Homo sapiens: one gene and its partners. The protein of the gene in region 2 interacts with the protein of the main gene of each other region in a pairwise test. Each region holds a gene or a part of one and is shown on either strand. Other genes may lie near its edges.

What was found.
Region 1: the proteins of LATS2 (region 2) and GLIS1 come close enough for resonance energy transfer, tested with the Homo sapiens proteins (one large-scale study listed by BioGRID).
Region 3: the proteins of LATS2 (region 2) and TEAD2 come close enough for resonance energy transfer, tested with the Homo sapiens proteins (one large-scale study listed by BioGRID).
Region 4: the proteins of LATS2 (region 2) and KDELR2 come close enough for resonance energy transfer, tested with the Homo sapiens proteins (one large-scale study listed by BioGRID).

Annotation. Positions count from the first base shown.
Region 1 is NC_000001.11:53,505,739-53,508,951, forward strand, and holds the end of GLIS1 (zinc finger protein GLIS1), read right to left. Parts: intron 1,039-3,213; coding exon 881-1,038; 3' UTR 501-880; downstream 1-500. UniProt on the Homo sapiens protein: Acts both as a repressor and an activator of transcription. Binds to the consensus sequence 5'-GACCACCCAC-3'. By controlling the expression of genes involved in cell differentiation inhibits the lineage commitment of multipotent cells.
Region 2 is NC_000013.11:21,051,587-21,055,086, reverse strand, and holds part of LATS2 (serine/threonine-protein kinase LATS2), read left to right. Parts: intron 1-3,500. UniProt on the Homo sapiens protein: Negative regulator of YAP1 in the Hippo signaling pathway that plays a pivotal role in organ size control and tumor suppression by restricting proliferation and promoting apoptosis.
Region 3 is NC_000019.10:49,348,917-49,352,416, reverse strand, and holds part of TEAD2 (transcriptional enhancer factor TEF-4), read left to right. Parts: intron 1-1,051; coding exon 1,052-1,116; intron 1,117-3,357; coding exon of another isoform or gene 3,358-3,460; intron 3,461-3,500. UniProt on the Homo sapiens protein: Transcription factor which plays a key role in the Hippo signaling pathway, a pathway involved in organ size control and tumor suppression by restricting proliferation and promoting apoptosis.
Region 4 is NC_000007.14:6,470,653-6,474,152, forward strand, and holds part of KDELR2 (ER lumen protein-retaining receptor 2), read right to left. Parts: intron 1-3,500. UniProt on the Homo sapiens protein: Membrane receptor that binds the K-D-E-L sequence motif in the C-terminal part of endoplasmic reticulum resident proteins and maintains their localization in that compartment by participating to their vesicle-mediated recycling back from the Golgi.

The DNA.
Region 1 (3,213 bases), on a different chromosome or scaffold from region 2:
GCAGGGACCAGCCTTTGCCCTGGCTTTTTGAGGCTGTTTGGGCTCCATCCCCAGCAAGCTTGCCCTGCCCTCCCAGTTTTCTCTGTTTGCAGAAGCCCAGACACTAGATTTGAAGCTCGTTCTCCCACCCGCTGAGGAGTCGCTGTAGCAGGTAGAGGCCCAGGTCAGACGGAGCTGGGTCCCAACTGTGGTCTGACTGTGGGGCCCGGGATCTGAAGCCCGTCGCCGCACCCTCCCAGCCTCAGTTTGCCCACCTGTCCATGGGGATGGGCCTACCTCACTGCACAGTCCTGGGACTAGCGCTGGTGTCTGTAAGGACCATAGCGCATGGTGGGGGCCACGTGCCACTGGTTCCCATCCTCGTGGTCAGAACCCAGGGCCTGAGCTGGTTTCTACGCAGCCTCCCTAGCCCTGAACACCTGGCTCTGTCACCCTCCTCCGAGGCTCTCCCGGTCCCAGCCTCTGGGCTGAATCATAAAGCAGAACGAGGACTTCACATCTCCTTTCCAGTTTTTAATGTTTTTTCTTGTAAAACCAAAAATATAAAACTGGCAGGGGAACGGAAAACAAGTTCTGCATATTTTATATACACGAGGTCTGTGATTTCAAAACCACTGCGGGGAGGAACGGGAAGACAAGATCGAGGGAATGTTACAGGGCCACAGATCCTGGCGGGCACCTCTGTGCGCCCAGCTCAAGCTCGGATGGCGGCTCCCTGGCAGCGCTGGGTGGGGTGGCAGCGCTGGCTCCCCTGGGTCATGGCCTGGCTGTTCCGGCTGTGGCCTGGCACTCCTGCTAGGTGCACGGAGGGTGGGAGCGACAGCAGGTGGGCGAGGTGGCATCTGCAGTGCTGGATGGGCAGGCGCATGTGGGGGCTCCTTCAGGTGTCTGTGTAGATGGAGGGGATGTGGCCCAGGCAGTGGTCAAAGGCTCCATTGGGGAAGAAGCCACAGTCCTCGGGGCCGCTGGACACCACATCTTCAGATGGCTGCTGTGGCAGCGCTGTGGGGCATGAGGCCTCAGCCAGGGCCTCATAGCCTGTGAGTGGTTGGGAAAGGGTCAGCGCTGGAGGCAGCAGGGGCTGTGCCTGCGCATGCTTCCCAGTTCCAGGCCCCACCCCGCCTGCCCAGGGTCATCCCCTCACAGTGTCCCGTCGGTGGGGCCTGCTTGGAGCCCCCAACTTTTCCAAATGGGGGAGCTGGCCGCTGGGGTGGGGCGAGGGCTTGGGAGGCACCCTGGGCCTGGCACACCCAGGGGGCCCAGGGCAGCTGGGGAGACAGGCACGGGGTTGACTCAGGGAGGTCCATCACCAGGGCTGGGCTGTGGGGCAGAATGTGGGGGAAAGAGAGGAGCAGGGTAGGAGCAGCTCAGCCCTTGCCCTCAGGGGCTGGTCCCCTCCTGGTAGAAGGACCAGCTCACCCCCACCCTTTCAGTTGTATCCCCCAACCAGACTCAAGAAACTCAAAGAAGGCCACCAGCATTTACTGGGCACTTAGTAAGTGCTCATTTCAGCTTGCCTCGCTTCGGCTCCACAATGCTCCCCTGCGGTGGGATTCACTATCCTATTGTACAGCTGAGAAGGCAGGCACAGAGGCCAGGATGCTTGCCTAAGGTCACAGTGTGAGTAAGGGGTGGAGCTGGGATTGAACCCAGGTCCATCTGGCTTCAGAGATACCTGGCTCTTCCACCGGACATGCTGTCTCCAGGGTGGGGCCACCGCTCAGAGGCCCTTGACTTGGGAGGGGCCGGGAGGGGTGATCTTCTCCAGCCCCTGCCCGAAAGGCCTGCCAATGAGCTGCTGTCATGCATTTGTGTGGCCTAAGACAGGCGAGCCTCAGTCTACGCAGTGGGGTTGGGCTGAACTGTTCTGAGGCCTGCAGCCCCTGAAGCTTGTCAGCCTGGATTTCATGCTCTGTGTGTGATTTTTGCTTGACCGGGGAGGTGTGCACAGAAAGGCAGCTGAGCGGGCCTGGAGTGGGCACTGGGGAGAGGGGAGGCTGAAAGAACCTCCCCTGGCCGGTGTAGGGCCGGGGTGGGGTGTGGAAGCTGCCTCCTGCTCCATTCAGAGCTATTCATTCTAAGCCTTGCTGCTCAGCTGAGAAATCCCATGTGGGCTGGATGGGGGTGGGGAGGACAAGATGGGGAGAGCCCACAGTGCTGGGCACCTCAATTCGGGTATACACAGACACAGAGCACCCGTCTTCCATGTGAGCCCCATGTCACGCAGGGGGCCATGCACACACGTCTATCCCGCGTGGACACGGCACACGTTTACCCACGGGCCTGTGGGCACAATCCTCAAACACAGGTGCACACGTGCACACAAGCACACGTCTGTGGAAACAGCCATGAGTCGTGGGGTGGGTGACACAATGTGCACACAGATGGGGTTCACGGACATCCACATACACCTGGGGTAATACATGTGCAGACACGAGAGTGCAGCCCTGCCAGCTCCTGACACTCACGGGGCGCATGCTGCCCAGAGCCACCTGTGCAAGCCCCGCAAGCACGGGCACACGCAGACACCTGGCACGGGCGCAGGTGTGTGGACGTGGACCCACAGGGTGGTATGTGCCCGGCTGAGGCCTCAGTGCTTGTCCCTATATACCTGTCCCTCCACCCTCCCGCTCACTACCTCAAAGCTGCCCCAAGGGCCTCTGGGGCGGGTCTCAGGTTCCCCTTTGTTGGAGCCCTGGAAACCTCCTGTTAGACCTGGGCCCCGAGGCTGTTTTGAGGGTGGGTCTCAGCTGGAGGAATTCAGGGAGGGTCTAGCCCCTCCCTTCTGATGCCCCTGCTCTGACTAGGCCTGCCCTGCTGATCGGAGCCTGGTTCCACCTGGGCTGCGGGCACCCTCCCCTCTCCCTGGGCTTCTCTAGCCAAGCCTGGGGCAGAGCTGGGGAGGCCCAGGGCCCTGCAGGGCAACACCAGGTACCTAAGTGGGGAAGGAACAGCATGACCTCCAGGTTCTGTCCCCGCCTAATCTCCTGTGCTGCCAAAGGGAGAGCAGGATTTGTTCATTCCCTGCTATATCCCCAGGGTCTGCAGCTATGCCTGGCACACAGTAGGTGCTCAATAAATAAAGTGAAGCAGTAATTAAACCATGAGCTCCCAGTCCGATTCTTCAGAAACCTGCCAGCATTCAGACACACATAAGGCTCGCAAAGCTGTGCAAGGAGCATGCACTTTCCAGTCAGGCAGGTACAGACAGTT
Region 2 (3,500 bases):
CTGAAAAAATGCTTTCATTCTCTATGAAACTGAAGGAACGTTTCATCCTTTCTAAAGTACTCAGGCAAGAACACAGTTTATCCGTAGGTACTATTTTTTCATATTCACTTAAGACAGGGACAGCCCTTGTGGTATCCCTAGACTAGTGCCTCACTATGGTGGGAGATGGAGAAAAAATCAGAACAGCTTGTGGGGTCCTCCCCCTCCCTCCGTACCAAACAAAACCAGGTGGTAGGTTTAGGGATGTCACTGAATAATCCTCTCAACCTTTTTGTATGTTTGACATTTTTCATAAGCAAATGTTGAGGGGGGAATGGAAAAAGAAAGAAAAACCAGGACTCCTGATCTGGCTAGGGACACGGCCACTTAGTATTTCTTTGCTCAGGTATAAACAGACATCGACATAGAAATGTCCAGTCTCGACTGCCCTGGTTGATTTTACTATTTGAATGTTTGTGGCACCCACAGATGCTTAACACCCCAAGTGTCTCTAGGAGCGTGGCTCTGCTGTGAGTCAGTGTCCGTGTGGTGGAGGGCCAGTGGGGTGGGGAGGTGCAGCTGCCCTAGGGTTTGGACTTCACGTGGAGACTTTGCCCTGCTATATCCTACCCAGTCCCTAGGTCCAGTCTTCTCATTGTGTAGCTATGTTTATTTATTTATTTAAATTTTTTTTCTTTTTGAGGTGGAGACTTGCTCTGTTGCCTAGGCTGGAGTGCAGTGGAATGACCTCGGCTCACAGCAGCCCCCGCCTCCCAGGTTCAAGCGATTTCCAGCTAATTTTTGCATTTTTAGTAGAGACAGGGTTTTGCCATGTTGGCCAGGCTGGTCTTGAACTCCTGACCTCAAGTGATCTTCCTGCCTTCCTGCCTCCAGCTCCCAAAGTGCTAGGATTACAGGCATGAGCCACTGCACCCAGCCGTGTAGCTATGTTTAAAAAGGGAGCCATTGTTCAAACACGAGTTTGCTAAATAGGAGTAGTTAGGAGACTTTTTTCCCCATTTTTAAAAATTGAGGAAAAATATACATATTTATCCTTTTAACCATTCTTAAGTATACAGTTCAGTTAAGTGGCATTAAATGCACCATTACTGCAAACATCACCACTGTCTATACATAAGACTTTTTCATCATCCCAAACAAAAACTGTACCCCTTAAGTAAAAATTCCCTGTTCCCCTTTCTTCTGGTAATCTCTCTTCTTTCTGTCTCTATGAATTTGCCTGCTGGAGGTAACTCACATAACTGGAATCATACAATATTTCCTTTTTGTGTTTGGCTTATTTCACTTAGCATAATGTTCTTGAGGTACATCTTTATTGTTGCATATGACAGGATTTCCTTCCTTTTTATAGCTGAATAATATGCCATAGTTCTGCGACTTTTGTTCTGTGTGAACCTCCCTTGGGCCCGTTTCATTTAGACCTGCATGTTAAACTTCAGAGAAGGTGCTGCTGTTGACTGAGGCTTCGTTCTCCTTTATCACCTTAGACCTTTGGGGTGGCACTGGCAGGCTTTGTCCTCAGTGTGGAACTGAGGACGCAGATTCGGTGCTGAGTGACTACCTGTGTCTTTCAACAGATGTTGCGTGGGCCTGTGTGCACATGCCTGGGAGTAGATGGGGGTAAACCAAACAGGATGCTCCTGCCCTCGTGGTGCTATCAGATTCTTCAAGAGGAAGCACACCAGCCAGTGGTGGTGCTGTGGGAAGGGCTGGGAGTGAACATGTATGGTCCCTTAGATTGGGGAGGTCAGGAAGGTCCTTCTGTGGGAGGGGTTCTGGGCTGAGGTTTTAGGAGTAGGAGTGAGCCAGGCAGGTGGGGTTGAGTTGGGCTTTTTTTTTTTTTTTTTTTTTTTGAGACAGAGTCTCACTCTGTTGCCAAGCTGGAGTGCAGTGGCATGTTCTCGGCTCACTGCATCCTCCGCCTCCCGGGTTCAAGCGATTCTCCTGCCTCAGCCTCCCTAGTAGCTGGGACTATAGGTGCGTGCCACCACACCCAGCTAATTTTTGTATATTTGGTGGACACAGGGTTTCACCGTGTTGGCCAGGATGGTCTCGATCTCCTGACCTCGTGATCTGCCTGCCTCAGCCTCCCAAAGTGCTGGGATTACAGGCGTGAGCCACCGTGCCCGGCCCAGCGTTCGGTTTTTCTAGCTGAGAGAAAGGTTTTGCAGGTTGGGGAGGACAGGAAGCATCGGTGCCTTTGACATACACAGGATCACAGAGTCAACCCAGACCTGCTGTTTGAGCCGCAGTCAGCATCTTGAGGCTCAGATGCTGCTCAGAACTGACCAACCTGGCACCTGGCTGCAGGCACGTTTCAGAGAGGAAAGACTTAAGCTTTTCTTCTCTGTGTTTTTCTGTCTTTACAGTTAAAAGAAAGCTACTTTAACTTTCTAAGCATCATTCTCAAACACTGATTTAAAGAGGAGTCACTCGGCTGGGCATGGTAGCCCGCGCCTGTTATCCCAGCTCTTTGGGAGGCTGAGGCAGGTGGATCACTTGAGATCAGGAGTTCGAGACCAGCCTAGGCAACAGGGTGAAACCCCCATCTCTGCTAAAAATACAAAAATTAACCGAGTGTGGTGGTGCACGCCTGTAATCTCAGTTACTCGGGTGGCTGAGGCACGAGAATCACTTGAATCTACAAGGTGGAGGTTGCAGTGAGCTGAGATTGAGCCACTGCACTCCAGTCTAGGTGACAGAGTGAGACTCTCCCAAATAAATAAATAAAAAATAAAGAGGAGTCACTTGGAGCAAGCAACCTGTTTCTGTGTTCAGTTTGGTAATTTTTCCGTGGTCTTATCTCCTGGCCTCATTAAACCTTTTTTGCCTAACTTATTATAAATCTTTAATTAGTAATGGTGATAATTGATCAGTATATCATGCATTACAGATTGAGCCTGCTGTCACACACAGCACCACTGTGATCCTCAAGGCAAGCCTGTCAGGTAGACAGTAGCGGGTGTTAGACCCTTGGTACCGTGCAGGAGCTTGAAACTCAGCAAGGTTAAGTGACAGGCTCAGACCACACGCTCAGTGCCAGAGCTGGGGAAGGACCCAGGCCTCCCACCTCCAGCCACTTTAGCACTGCACACCCAGTTTTCAGTGAGCTTCCCCTCCCTGTGCTTTTTAAACAGGGTCTTGCTCTGACTCCCAGGCTGGAGTGCAGTAGTGTGACCTTGACTCACTGCAGCCTCTACTTCCTGGGTTTAAGTGATTCTCCCACCTCAGCCTCCGGAGTAGCTGGGACCATAGGTGTGCCTCCACACCTGGTTAATTATTTAATTACTTTTAGAAATGCCGTCTGCCTCTGTTGCCCAGGTTGGTCTCCAGCTCCTGGGCTCAAGCAGTCCTCCCACCTTGGCCTCCCAAAGTGCCAGGATTACATGTGTGAGCCACTGGACCCAGCCTGCCCTGTGCTTTTTCACCTTTGGTCACTGCCTTCCTCCTCCACCACTGACACTGCTCTCCTGGTGGGCCGCATTGCCCAGACAGGTGAG
Region 3 (3,500 bases), on a different chromosome or scaffold from region 2:
CATCTAAGTCTCTTCACCACTATCTCTTGGGCTACTAGGGCTGTGACTGATACTGTAGCCACTAGCCTCATGCAGCTATTTAAATTAAAATTAAATAAAATTAAAGATTCTGTTTCTCAGGTCCATGAGCCACACTTGTGCTCAGTGGCCACGTGGTCTGTGGTCAGTAGCCACATGTGGGCACTGGGTACCGTATTGGATGGCACAGATTTCCATCCAATAGAACATTTCCATCCCTGGAAAGTTCTATTGGCCAGTGCTGCCTCCCCACCCCGACTTTGGCCTCCTGTCCCATCTCCTGAGTGTTGGTCATTTTCTTCCCACCCTCCCAACCCCTCAGCCTCTTCTTCCTCCAAATTCCTTGTCTTCTGCGTCTTCTCCCTGCCTTCCAAGACTTGGTTTCTCTTCTCTCCTCTTTCTTTTTATTTTTTTTTTGAAATGGAGTCTTGCTCTGTCACCCAGGAGTATAATGGCGTAATCTCGGCTCACTGCAACATCTGCCTCCCGGGTTCAAGCAGTTCTCCTGGCCCAGCCCCCTGAATAGCTCGGATTACAGGCGCGCACCACCACACTCTGCTAATTTTTGTATTTTTAGTAGAGATGGGATTTCACCATGTTGGCCAGGCTGGTCTCGAACTCCTGACCTCAAGTGATCTGCCCGCCTCAACCTCCTGAAGTGCTGGGATTACAGGTGTGAGCCACCACGCCAGGCTGGTTTCTCTTCTCTTTCTGACATTTTGTGAGAGATACCAAAATGTCATCATCAAGAGCCTGAGATACCGGGCTGAGACTGACCTGGGTTCAAGTCCCAGCTCTGCTGCATCTCAACTGTGTGACTTTGGGCAGGTCAGTTGACCCCTCTATACCTCAGTTGTCCTCATTTGTGCAATGAAAAGAGCAGTCATTCTACCTACCTCACGCACTGTGAGGCTTCAGTGAGATTGTGCACAAAATGCACAGGGTCTTGCTTGTTGTGGCCTCTCAGTAAACATTTGCTGGTGACATTAGCATCTTTCTACCTGGCTAACCCCTGGCTTCCTTTTTCCCTCAGTGTGAAGCCATTCTCACAGACACCGTTCACCTTGTCACTGACTCCCCCATCTACTGACCTCCCAGGTAAGAGCCTGCGCTCCACCCTCCCTTGTCTCCCCTCTCTCTCTTCGACCCCTACTGCCTTTCCTTCAACCTTCCATCAATTGAGGGATACATTGTTTTTTTTGTTTTATTTTGTTTTGTTTTGAGATGGAGTCTCCCTCTGTCGCCAGGCTGGAGTGCAGTGGCGTGATCTCGGCTCACTGCAACCTCCGCCTCCTGGGTTCAAGTGATTCTCCTGCCTCAGCCTCCCGAGTGGCTGGGATTACAGGTGCCCGCCACCATGCCGGGCTAATTTTTGTATTTTTAGTAGAGATCGGGTTTCACCATGTTGACCAGGATGGTCTCGATCTTTTGATATTGTGATCCGCCTGCCTCGGCTTTCCAAAGTGCTGGGATTACAGGTGTGAGCCACCGCACCCGGCCAATTAGGGGATACATTCTTACTGAAGCCCAGCTTTGAGGCAGGGTGTGTGTGTTGGGGGCGGGGGAGCCGGGAGGGGCTGGAGAGCTGAGTGGTGGAACTGGTGATGGTTAGGAGATTTTGGTCTTTGCAGCCACACACTGGGTTTGTGTTCTGCCACTTGCTAGCTTATGAGACATGGGGGAGGTATGTTAGTCAAGATTCTTTCAGCTGCAAGTGATAGAAATCCAAATCAAGCCAGCTGAAGCAACATTTTAAAAAAGAAGAGGCAGGTGCGGTGGCTCACAGCTGTAATCCCAGCACTTTGGGAGGCCTAGGCGGGTGGATCACCTGAGGTCAGGAGTTCGAGACCAACCTGGCCAACATGGCGAAACCACCCCCCCCAACCTCTACTAAAAAATACAAAAATTAGCCAGGCGTGGTAGCAGTAGCACTTGCCTGTAATCCCAGCTACTCGGGAGGCTGAGGCAGGAGAATCACTTGAACCTGGGAGGCAGAGGTTGCAGTGAGCCGAGGTGGCACCGTTGCACTCCAGACTGGGCGACAGAGCAAGACTCTGTCTCAAAATAAATAAATAAATAAAATAAAAAATAATAAGAAAAATGTATTGATTTATTGGTTCCAGTAACTGACAGTTCAGAATTATGGCCTCAGGCGTGGCTGGATCCAGCGGCTCAAGTGATGGCATCAGTCATTACTTTGATCTGCTTTCCACTGTGGTGGCTTCATTCCCAGGCAGACTCAGCTACTTGGCAGCAAAGATGGCTTCTGGAAGTCCATGCTGATATGGCCCTGAGAACTCACATCAGTGAAAGAGGGAGTCCCTTAGTTTCCATAGATTTATCAATTAGGAATACTTTTGGCTGCAAGTAACAGAAGACCCACATTAAAAGTGCCTTAAATAGTAAAAGCATTCATGTTATGAATCCATGCAACAAAAAGCCTGGAGGTGGGCTGTTCCCGTGTGGGCTTAGCAATATCAGGACTGGAATCTCTGTAGTTCCTCTCATGTCTGTCTTATTGTCCCAAGATGGCTGTTGCAACTCCAGGGATCATGTCTGTGTTGGTCCATTTGCATTGCTGTAAAGGAATGCCTGAAACTGGGTGATTTATAAAGAAAAGAGGTTTATTTGGTTCACAGTTCTGCAGGCTGTACAGGAAGCATGTTGCCAGCCTATGCTTCTGGTGAGGGCCTCAGGAAGCTTAGGACCATGGTGGAAGGGGAAGGGGAGCCACTATGTCACATGGTGAGAGGGAGCAAGAGAGCGAAGCCAGGCTCCTTTAAACAGCCAGCTCACATCAACTCAAAGAGTGAGAATTCACTTGTTACTATGGGGAAGGCACCAAGACATTCATGAGGGATCCACCCCCATGACCCAAGCACTTCCCATCAGGCCCCACCTCCAACCTTGGGGATCACACTTTTTTTTTTTTTTTTGAGACAGAGTCTCGCTCTGTCCCCCAGTCTGGAGTGCAGTGGCGCAATCTCGGCTCACTGCAACCCCCGCCTCCTGGGTTCAAGCCATTCTCCTGCCTCAGCCTCCTAAGTAGCTGGGATTACAGGCACGTGCCACCATGCCCAGCTAATATTTTGTATTTTTAGTAGAGACAGGGTTTCACCATGTTAGCCAGGACGGTCTCAATCTCCTGACCTTGTGATCCACCTGCGTTGGCCTCCCAAAGTGCTGGGATTACAGGTGTGAGCCACCGTGCCCAGCTGGGGATCACATTTCAACATGAGATTTGGAGGGGACAAATATCCAAACCATATCAATCTCCCAAGCAGGACTTGGCCAGGGCCAAAAGCTTTCTCCTCCCAAAGTTCTGTCTTTTTCATTCAGGAAGAAACTCCTTCCCAGAAGCCCCCCAGCAGATTTCCCCTAACGTCTCATTGGCTAGGACTGTGTCACATGGCCACTTCTAACTGCAAGGGAGGCTGGGAAAGTGAGTATTTAGCTTTTTCAGCTTCTAAGTGGAGGCAGGC
Region 4 (3,500 bases), on a different chromosome or scaffold from region 2:
TATTGTTTGTTTTTGAACTTTATGGTAGTAGGAGGTACTCCTTATAATTTTTGTTTGTAAACATATACTTCTTGATTTAATCCGCCACCACTATGACCACCATCATGCACGGATTCACCAAAAACTGGATAAATAATTATGTTGCTTTTATTAATCTTTCTTAAATGTATAGCTCATGTTGGCTGGGCATGGTGGCTCACGCCTGTAATCCTAGCACTCTGGGAGGCCGAGGCAGGCGGATCATGAGGTCAGGAGATCGAGACCATCCTGGCTAACATGGTGAAACCCTATCTCTACTAAAAAAAATACAAAAAATTAGCCGGGCGTGGTGGCGGGTGCCTATAGTTCCAGCTACTCAGGAGGCTGAGGCAGGAGAATGGTGTGAACCCAGGAGGCGGAGCTTGCAGTGTGCCGAGATCTCGCCACTGCACTCCAGCCTGGGTGACAGACTGACTCTGTCTCAAAAAAAATAAAAAATAAATAAATAAATAAATAAATAAATGTATAGCTCACATTTGTTTCGGTTTTTTTTTTTTTTTTTTTTTTTGAGATGGAGTCTCGCTCTGTCGCCCAGGCTGGAGTGCAGTGGCACAATCTCGGCTCACTGCAACCTCCGCCTCCCAGGTTCAAGCGATTCTCCTGCCTCAACCTCCCAAGTAGCTGGGATTACAAGCGCCTGCCACCATGCCCAGCTAATTTTTATATTTGTAGTAGAGACGGGGTTTCCATGTTGGTCAGGCTGGTCTCGAACTCTTGACCTCAGGTGATCTGCCTGCCTCGGCTTCCCAAAGTGCTGGGATTACAGGCGTGAGCCACAGCACCCGGCCTGTTTTGGGTCTTTATTTAAAAGTCTGGTGGTGTTTTGGGGACCGGAAATATGCTGTAGGAACTTAACTCTTACTCATGTCAATTAGCCTATGGTAAAACTGGCTTCAGTGTATGTTGTTTCACTTCAAGTTGCAGTGTGTGTTGTTTCACTTCAAGAACCTACCAATGACATTAAGTGAGGGCCTAGTGTTAATAATTTGTTCCTTTTTATAGCTGCGTCCATTGGTGGTCCATTGTATGGATGCACCAGTTTGTTTATTCACTCACCAGTTGAAGGACAGGTGGTTTCTAATTTGGGAGGACAGTGGATAAAGCTGCTGTGAACATTTGCGTACAAGTGTTTGTGTGAATGTAAGTTTTCACTTCTCTTGGGTATGTACTTAGGGGTGGGACTGCTGGGTCATATGTTAAGTGTAAGTTTAACTTTTTTTTTTTTTTTGAAACGGAGCCTTGCTCTGTCACCAGGCTGGAGTGCAGTGGAGCAATCTCGGCTCACTGCAACCTCCGCTTCCCGGGTTCAAGCAATTCTCCTGCCTCAGCCTCCCCAGTAGCTGAGATTACAGGCGCATGCCGCCACACCCAGCTAATTTTTAGTAGAGATGGGGTTTCACCATGTTGGCCAGGATGGTCTCGATCTCCTCACCATGTATGTGAATAAATACAAAACAAAATCTACATGCATAAACAAGACACACATCCATCTACACATGCACTGAGCCCCCTCAGCGCATCTAGCCAAGGCTCACAGCAGAGAGGCCTCTCACCAGGACCTAGACTGTGGCCAGCTCAACATTAATAAAAACTTGATGGGCGTTATTTCCACTAAGGCCTTAGCAGCACCTGGAGAAGAACAGCTGCTTCTCTCCTCTCACCAGCACACAGAAGTTAAAGTAAAAAGACACGAGCACCTCGGGTCTCACGCCAGACTTTCAGGACATCGTGCTTAGAAACTACAACCAAGCAAGCATGGATTCCTCTGAAACCTGGGCATCCTGAGGGGGAGAGAGGATTCTTGCTCACACACCTCTAATGCCTGCAGTTTTAACTTGCCTAGACAAGTGGGGACCTAACCATTTTTAAGTAAGCTCATTATTTCCTGAATACTAGGTTCCCATCATTTGGTAATGAAGAATCCATTATAAGTGACTCAAATTTGCTTTTTAGTAAAGACCAGACTCACATACTGCTTTGTCTCCTTTCAACAGTGCTTATGAAAATGCTCTTGAACACAAAATGTTGGGGGGAGGTTGTTTAGGTGCCATACCAATAGGATTCAGTTGAAATATTACTTCCTTGGGTATGCTAATAACCAAATGGCCTAGAATAGTGCCTGGTGCACAGGTGCTCAGTATTTGTAGAAAGAAGGAAAGAAAGAAAGAAATCAGACTCCTATTACATATCCTGAGAGCCCCTGTTCTTTTTTTTTTTTTTTTTTTTCAGACAGGATCCTGCTCTGTCACCCAGGCTGCCAGGCTGGAGGGCAGTGGTGCAATTACGGCTCACTGCAGCTTCAACCTCCAGGGCTCAAGCGATCCTACCACCTTACCCTCCTGAGTAGTTGGGACTACAGGAGTATGCCACCATGCCTGGCTAATTTTTGTATTTTTTTTTTTTTTTTTTTTTTAGAGACAGGGGTCTAACTATGTTGCTCAGGCTGGTCTCGGATTCCTTGGCTCAAGCAATCCACCCACCTTGGCCTCCCAAAGTGCTGGGATTACAGGCGGGAGCTACTGGGCCTGTTTCATGTTTTTTATATCCATAGGTTCGCAACTCTTATACTTTTCCTTTGTGGCACCCATCATAAATCGCAGTCATTTGTACTGCCATGATCTGTGTACTCTCCCACACCAGCCTAGAGACTTCTGCTTATTTTCTGCCGCATCCTCAGTTCCCAGCTCTGTAGGTGTTCACAAGCATGAATTCAACACTGTGCGAAAGAACTGAAGCTCACGTAGTCCACAACTTCCCCCAGTGTGGGGTGTGTGCCACCAGTGCTACACAAAGTGTTAGGTGGTGTGCAAACATTTTGTATTTTAATAGTTATACACTAGTTTTAATGTGAATTAGAAAAAATATAAGAAAGACAACAAAGGTGTTATAGATACTAATAATTAGGACAAGTTGAAAGGTTTAAAAAAATACGTTACTAAGTAAATGATGGTATAGAGATCATTTAAGCACGGCAAATGTAATAAAAATGACACACACACAACAGTTTAAGTAAAACTGACTCAGTGGCAAAGAAAAAAGATAGAAGCCTATAGACAGTTCCTCACACAGCAGCGAAATGAGACACTGCAACTAGGAGTCCTGCTTTCGTTCCTTGTTATGTACCAACTTGCTGGATTTCTCTGGGGACTCTGTAATTTCCCACGGCTTGAAAATATAATAGTTACCGCTCTTACTTACAGAGTTATCAAGAGCTTTAGATTTATCATACTTAAGGAACCTAAAATAAAAAAGTTCTAACTTCAAAGTATTTTAATTAACTACTGTTTTGAAACCAAAAATGTATGCTTACTGATAGCTCGTTTAGTCCCAGTTATATATACAAGGTGGTCTGAAAGTTTTAAAGTCAAGAACAGCATATTAAGACATTATTTTTGGAGCATTTTAATTAAAAATACACAGCTGACATAAATTAAGTGTCCATAGACCTGTGCACTGTAGAT